Linked DNA regions of Homo sapiens. The protein of the gene in region 2 purifies or fractionates together with the protein of the main gene of each other region. This does not show direct contact. Each region holds a gene or a part of one and is shown on either strand. Other genes may lie near its edges.

What was found.
Region 1: the proteins of NUDT14 (region 2) and NAA16 fractionate together in Homo sapiens (co-fractionation; one large-scale study listed by BioGRID). This does not show direct contact.

The regions. Positions count from the first base shown.
Region 1 is NC_000013.11:41,366,724-41,370,529, reverse strand, and holds part of NAA16 (N-alpha-acetyltransferase 16, NatA auxiliary subunit), read right to left. Parts: intron 3,092-3,806; coding exon 2,878-3,091; intron 1,441-2,877; coding exon 1,247-1,440; intron 1-1,246. UniProt on the Homo sapiens protein: Auxillary subunit of the N-terminal acetyltransferase A (NatA) complex which displays alpha (N-terminal) acetyltransferase activity.
Region 2 is NC_000014.9:105,175,107-105,178,349, forward strand, and holds part of NUDT14 (uridine diphosphate glucose pyrophosphatase NUDT14), read right to left. Parts: intron 2,630-3,243; coding exon 2,586-2,629; intron 1,922-2,585; coding exon 1,857-1,921; intron 1,666-1,856; coding exon 1,428-1,665; intron 882-1,427; coding exon of another isoform or gene 860-881; exon of another isoform or gene 382-859; intron 1-381. UniProt on the Homo sapiens protein: Hydrolyzes UDP-glucose to glucose 1-phosphate and UMP and ADP-ribose to ribose 5-phosphate and AMP. The physiological substrate is probably UDP-glucose. Poor activity on other substrates such as ADP-glucose, CDP-glucose, GDP-glucose and GDP-mannose.

The sequences.
Region 1 (3,806 bases), on a different chromosome or scaffold from region 2:
CCCTTCAAGGCTCAGGGGTTAGTAGCTTTATAGATAAAAGGCAGCCATGGTCATAATCCCAACTGCATTTGCACAAAATGGTACAGTTAGCCTATCCCTTCCTGCCTTAAATCCTGGTGTTCGCTTATTTTCCTTACTAATAGATGTCCTTTGTGGCTTTTATTTTTTCCTGTGATAGAGCACTTTTTTTCTACATTAAAAACCTGTTCAGGCAGATACCTCTTCTCCTCAATGATTTTCTCAATGGCATCTGGAACTTCTCTGCCAGCTCTTGGTGAGAAGTTAATTCTTCTGTTATCTGGACATTTTTTAACCCAAACATCTTTCTAAAATTATCAAACCATCCTTTGCTGGACCCTCAAAATTCAAACCTATGTTGTTCAAAGGCCAACTGTACTAGACTTACAGTGAATAAACCAGAAAACTAAATATTTCCTTAAATCTGATCCCAAAACAACTATTAACACTTGAGAAAATCCTGGAGGTGCTATCTCTTTGTAGCTACAACATTTCTAGTAAGACATATAAGGTAAAATGATTCCATATGTAATGGACAATTGTATTGCTGCTGTAACAAATTACCAAATATTTATTGACTTAAAACAACACACTTATTATGTTATAGTTCTTATAGGTTAAAAGCCCAACACAGTCTCACTGGGCTTACAATCAAGGTGTCAGCAGGACTGCATTTCCTTTGGAGATTCGAAGGGGGAATCCGTTCAATGCCTTTTTCAGCCTCTCTAGACTGCCCACACTCCTTAGCTTGGGGCACCCTCCTTCCATCTTCAAAGCCAGCAACAGCAGGTTGAGTCCTCCTCACATTGCATCATTCTGACCTCTGCTGCTGGCATCCTCAACTTTTAAGGCCCCTTTTGACGATATTAGGACCACATGGACAATCCAGGCTAATCTATCTTGAGGTCAATTCATTACAACCATAAATTCCATCTCCCACCTTAATTCTCCCTTGCCATGTAAGGTTACATATTCACAGGCTGGGGGGACCAGAACACAGACACCTTTGCAGGGCCATTACTCTGCCTACCACAATTGCAATTCTATGTATAACTTGCATTAGCCAAAATTTGTATACTGTCACTCAAAGATAATTGACGGCTATTATAAAAACCTTGAAATATTTCAAATGGCTTCTTACAGATTTAAATAAATCATGTTAACTGTCAGAACGGAACCAAATAGCATAAATTTTACCAAATAACAAAGATAGTAAAACCCATCTCACCCTTTCTAATTTTTCAGGTATAAGTTCTTCCTTAAGGCCACTGGCTTCTTCTTCTTCTTCATCTCTTTTTTTCTTTTGATTTTTCTGTTGACGTTCTCTTTCTGCATGCTTTCTTTCTTCTTCTAGTTTAGCCTTTTTCTGAGCTCTTCTCTGCTTGCTAAGCATTTTCTTCAATTCTTTGGCTGACAAGTTTTCTATAAATATCCAAATGAACAAAATTCTGAGCCAATGTTTGCATTTTCTTCATATTCTTCTGTAATACATACTGTTAGTATGGTTGTCCCTTGGTATCAGTGGGGGATTGGTTCATGACCCCCACCCCCACAAAGTCCACTGATACTCAAGCCTGTGATATAAAATGACACAGTATTTCCATACAACCTATGTACATCCTCCTGTATACTTTTAATTAGATCAGCTTTAAATCTTTCACCTTCCTTTTGCTTTAAGTTGCATATAATGACTTCACTTTTTCATAAATTATATTATGGTCTATAGGTATGCCTAAAATAATGTAAATGCTATGTAAATAGTTGTTACACTGCATTGTTCAGGAAATACTAATAATGACAAGAAAAAAAGTCTGGACATGTTCAGTACAGATGCAATTTAAAAAAACATATTTATGATTTGTTCCACCCATGTGGAACCCACAAAAATGGAGGGCCAGCTGTATACTTTTTTTTTCTGTTTTTTGTCTGGGCAAGGAGGGATGCAGAGGCAACCCATATAAAAGCTTTTAGAAAGTGTATCCCCAGTGACTAGAACAAAATTGGGCACACAAAGGACAGCCAGTAAATGTTGCATTAACTAAAATTGACCAATAGTAGCCCAGTTCTGCCTCCTACACAATATATGACTCCAGGCAAATCACTTTGTCCTTCTCAGTATCAAGTCTTTCAAGAATAAGTGAGATAATACATATAAACACCTGTGATCTCTAAATACTATATAAATATTAGAAATGAACAGCTACCTAGGAATATCTGAGATAGTTACCTAGGCTCATTTCATGCTAACTATTTCTCAAATATTCCTAGATATTAACATTCTAGTGAATAAAAAACTGTACAGATATTCTCACTGATATTCTTATTTTTAATAAAGTAGGAACTAGAAATTTTAAGATTATATATTTTTTCCTAAGGAGCTCAAAGCTATTTTCAGTTACAATTTTTTAAAAAAGAAAGAAAAAAACTAGTCCACAGACATTTCTATGTTTCCTAAACTCGTCTTTTTAAAATTTTTGTAGCGACAGGGGTCATGCTATGTTGCCCAGACTGGTCTTGAACTCCTGGCCTCAAATGATCTGCCTGCCTTGGCCTCCCAAAATGCTGTGATTACAGGCGTGAACCACCATACCCAGTTCTTAAATTGGTCTTTCTGAAGACAAAAATAAAAAAAATTCTAAGTTGTTCCATTAAAGTAATTTAGAACCATCAGCTACAGAATATCATCCCACTTTTTTTAACTCTCTCTGCAACATTTTTGTTTTTTGGCATATGAGTTATCTAATGTTTGTCTTCAACTCCAACAGACAATATATTAATATTTTTCTAGGTATTGTTTACGCTAATGGCATTCTGAAATTTAGTGTCCTTTTAAAATCTTTTAAGTTCCTATTCAGTTACCTGAGTTTATTTCTTGTTGTTTGCTTTCATTGGTTAAGGGATTATCATACAATTTCAAGTATATTTCAATCGCTGATCTAGCAGCCTTGAAATAAAAGGCATGTCTTCTGAGTATATCTTCTAATCTCAAAAGGTCAACATAGGCACGAAGGGTCATCTTTCTCATGCAGTATGTATGGAAGTCGAATTGGTCATCAGTTATCTCAAAAAAATGCTTAAAAACAAAAATCACAAAATTAACCTTTACATTTATGTCAATAATGTCTACCTTTAGAAAAAAAAAATTGTAAAAAGCCCAAAAAACAATTTAAACAGTCACAATTTTCACTTAGCTGCCCTCTCCAATGTTTTACACTATAAAGGATATGAATTATTTTTGGCATTCAACTTGAACTTTCTCTTCCTACAAACCATGCCCATTCCCTACAAATCATGTTTTGTGATGATACTCAACTTCTATATAAGTCAAAAGATCAGGTTATTTTTTAAACCTGAAAGTTAGTATATATTAATATTTTAGTTTTAATGAAATACTCTTCCTCCATATTCCCTAAAAACCAGCATGGCACAGTTAAACAGAGCTCTGAATGAAGACTAAATATGTGTAGGTTCACACTAAATATTTACAAATCTGACTGCTCTACTCAACTCTACCATTTTCAAGGGCAATCCTTACCCACCGCCTGCCACAGGGCCTAATACATAGCAGACATTCAGTAAGCACAGTATTTGCCCACTCAAGAGATAAGCTTCTTATTAGGGATGCGACCCTGAATAAGCCTTTTAATTTCCTAGACAATTATTTAATCTAAGTTAAGAATAAAGAAATCCATACAGCCAATTTCTTAAGGTTGTTAAAGGATCAAATAATGTATTTTAAAGTTCATTTTCAACAGTAAACTGTTATATAAATACAGAACTTTATTGTT
Region 2 (3,243 bases):
CCAGAGGCTGTACCAGTAGAACCACCGCGGCCAGGGCTGCTTGACCACTTGCCCTGAGAGCCTGTGCGGTCCCTCTGCCAGGAACCTGCCCAGGCCCACCTCCTCCAGGGGGACCAAGGGGACTCCAGCCCCTCCCATGCCTCCCGGCTGTGCTCAGTACTATGGGCTGGGGAGCTGGGGGCACAGTGGGCGTGGCCCACCACGGGGTAGACACCTGCAGAAAACCAAGGCCCATCCTTCACACCCAAGTCCACCCTTCGGCATGGAAATTCTGTTTTGTTGAGACAGAGTTTCGCTCTTGTTGCCCAGGCTAGAGTGCAATGGCGCGATCTCGGCTCACCGCAACCTCCGCCTCCTGGGTTCAGGCTCACCGCAACCTCCGCCTCCTGGGTTCAAGCGATTCTCCTGCCTCAGTCTCCTGAGTAGCTGGAATTACAGGCTCCTGCCACCACGCCTGGCTAATTTTGTACTTTTAGCAGAGGCGGGGTTTCTCCATGTGGTCAGGCTGGTCTCGAACTCCTGACCTCAGGTGATCCGCCTGCCTCGGCCTCCCAAAGTGCTGGGATTACAGGCGTGAGCCACCGTGCCTGGCCCAGCGTGGAAATGCTGCCTTTAACTTGGGAGTCCACCCATCCAGCCAGGAACGTGCCCAGGTGAAGTCCTTGAGGCTGCTGAGGTGGGAGGGCCCCAGGCTCAACCCTGAGTGGCCCATGTGCCAGGCTGACAGGTGCAGAGACTTCCGGTGCTTCTCCCAGTGGAGCGGGCCCTGGCCTCTGGAGGAGGCTGTGGAGGCTGGTGCTCAGCTGGTGGGGGTGGGGGTCTGTGACACCCTCCTCCTTCCCCAAGACCTCAGCTGGGGTCAGGAGCCCATCGTAGCGTCCCTGGGGAAGTGGATGGGCTTCATACCAACATCTAGTCCTGGGAAGGCAACCCCACCCCAGCTGGCAGCCCTCGCGGGGCAAGAGTTGGTGCCTCGAGTTTGGTGGGTCAGGTCCCAAAGCGCAGGCTCTAGTGCCTGTTCCCCAGGAGAGCTGGAGCCACCCCTTCTCCAGCCCAGGACACAGCTTCTCCCTCATTCCTAAGCCACCCTCTGAGAACAGAGCTGTGAGTCACCCCCACCCCCAGCGCCCGGTCTTAATCCTACAGGAAGTAGAGGCACCTGTCAGCAGCAGCTGTCACCCGGCCTGCCTCACACAGCTGGGGGCCGCAGGCTGGGGGCATGGGGCCGAGACGCTGCAGAGAGAGCCCCAAGAGCCCAGATTCTGGCCTGGCTTAGGAGCTGAGGCGCATTCGGTCCAACCCTCCCCTAATCCCATGTTGGAAAACAAGGAGGAATCCATCCTGCTTGCACACTCCCAGGGACGGGGCCCTCACTCTCTCCCATCTCCTGAGTCACACCACAGGCCTGAGGGCCTGGTCCCACTCACCAGTATGTGGCGACCCGGCGCAGATCAGAGGGGGCCAAGTGGTAGCCACACTCCTCCCAAGCCTCCTTGCAAGCCACTTCCTCCAGCGAGAGCCCAGGCTGGTCCACGAGGCCGGCACACAGCTCAACTGTCACCCCCGCTGAGCCGGGCAGGGCTGGCTGTAGCTCCCGAGGCCCGTCCTGGTCTACAGCTGCTAGGGACCCTGGGAAGCGGCGCTCCACCTCACCCGCATACACAGCTGCGTGGGAAGAAGCCAGACTGTGCTCACAGCCACGTGGTGGCCACCTCCAGGTCACCCACACAGCCAAGCCCCCTCCCAGGGCCTCAGCTTCCCCTGGAGCCCCCTCCCACATCTGTATTCAGACCCTCAGGACCACAGGGACCTGAAGGTGACCCTGCAGATCCCCTTCCCACCCCAGCTGGCCTCACCTGGCCGGAACTGCTTCACCAACACCAGGCTCCTCCGAGAAGAGTTGAATAAGAGAACGGTCACGCTGTGTACGGGGGGAGGGGCTCAGCACAGAAGCACTCCACTGGCCCTCGTGGGGCCCCACCTCCCATCTTTCTGTTCCCAGCGTGGCCATCCCACCTCCTTGCCAGCAGCCCAGGGAGGTCAGGCCCCTTGCTCAGATAGGATGGCTGAGGCCCAGGCGGGACCAGAGCTTTCCAGGGTCACAGTCTGGCCAGGACCCAGACCTGCTGTATTCCAGCTGGCAGGATGGGAGGCGGGGGGCAGGGAAGGACACACGGGCAGCTGAGTAGGTCAGGGTGCTCGCAGCTGAGGCCGGGTGACTGACAGGACGTTTGGCCCTCACTGAGCAGCTGCCCACCAGCCACACTCCTCGAGCCACGTCGCCATCCAGCCCAGACCCTGGATGCTAGGGGCAAAGGCTCCAGGACAGCCTCTCCCTGCCCTGAGAGGGCCTGCCCACCATCATGGTCCCGGTGGCCTGAGCAAAGACCTGACTCAGCCCCCAGGCCTCAGGCTGACCCCTCAGGGATAGGAAACCCAGAGGCCGGGCAGAGAGAAGGGACTTTTGGAGCCCACGCAGGGAACAGCAACGTCAGGGAGGAGAGGGCACCTTCGCCCTGGGCCCAGTGTCCCCGTAGACATCAGTCTGGGGCTTCCCCAGTGGCCAGGCTGGGCCAGGCTCTCACCTGTCATGCGTCTTCATGAAGTCCCAGGACTTCTGGGCACCATTCTAGAAGGGGCAGGTCAGCGGTTAGAATGTCCCAGGATGGGCGGAGGTGCTCGGGGAACCGAGGAGGCCACAGACCCATTGCACCCACTCCTAACCAGGGAGATCGGCTCGTGGCCTGGGCCCACGGGAGCCAGGAACTGCAGCTCCCGTGGGCAGAGGAGCAAGCAGCCTGGGAGGGGCAGGGAGGTCAAGGACAGCCTAATACCCTACGAGTGAGGCAGAAGACCAGGGCAAAGGGCAGGGAAGGTGTCCAGGCACCTCATGAAACACTGCCCAGCACAGACCGAGCACAAGGGGCTGCAGAGAGACGTACACCGTCACCAAGTATAGGAAGGCTCATGGAGGCTCGGGGAGGGCAGGCGTGACTCCCTCACAGCAGGGCAGGAGGGCCCTGCAGGCAGAGGAGAGGTCAGGTTTTCCTGCTGATGCTTCCTTGGGCCACTGAACAGGTGGAGACGGGAGGGCAGGAGGGGCCGGCACCAGGAGTGGATGGGGAAGGGTGGCAGGAGGGGCTGGCACCAGGAGCAGATGAGGAAGGGTGGCGCCCCAGCCAGGTAGGAGATCGCACTGCAGGACTCGGTGACTGTCATGATGGTGACCAGGCTCGGCAGCCC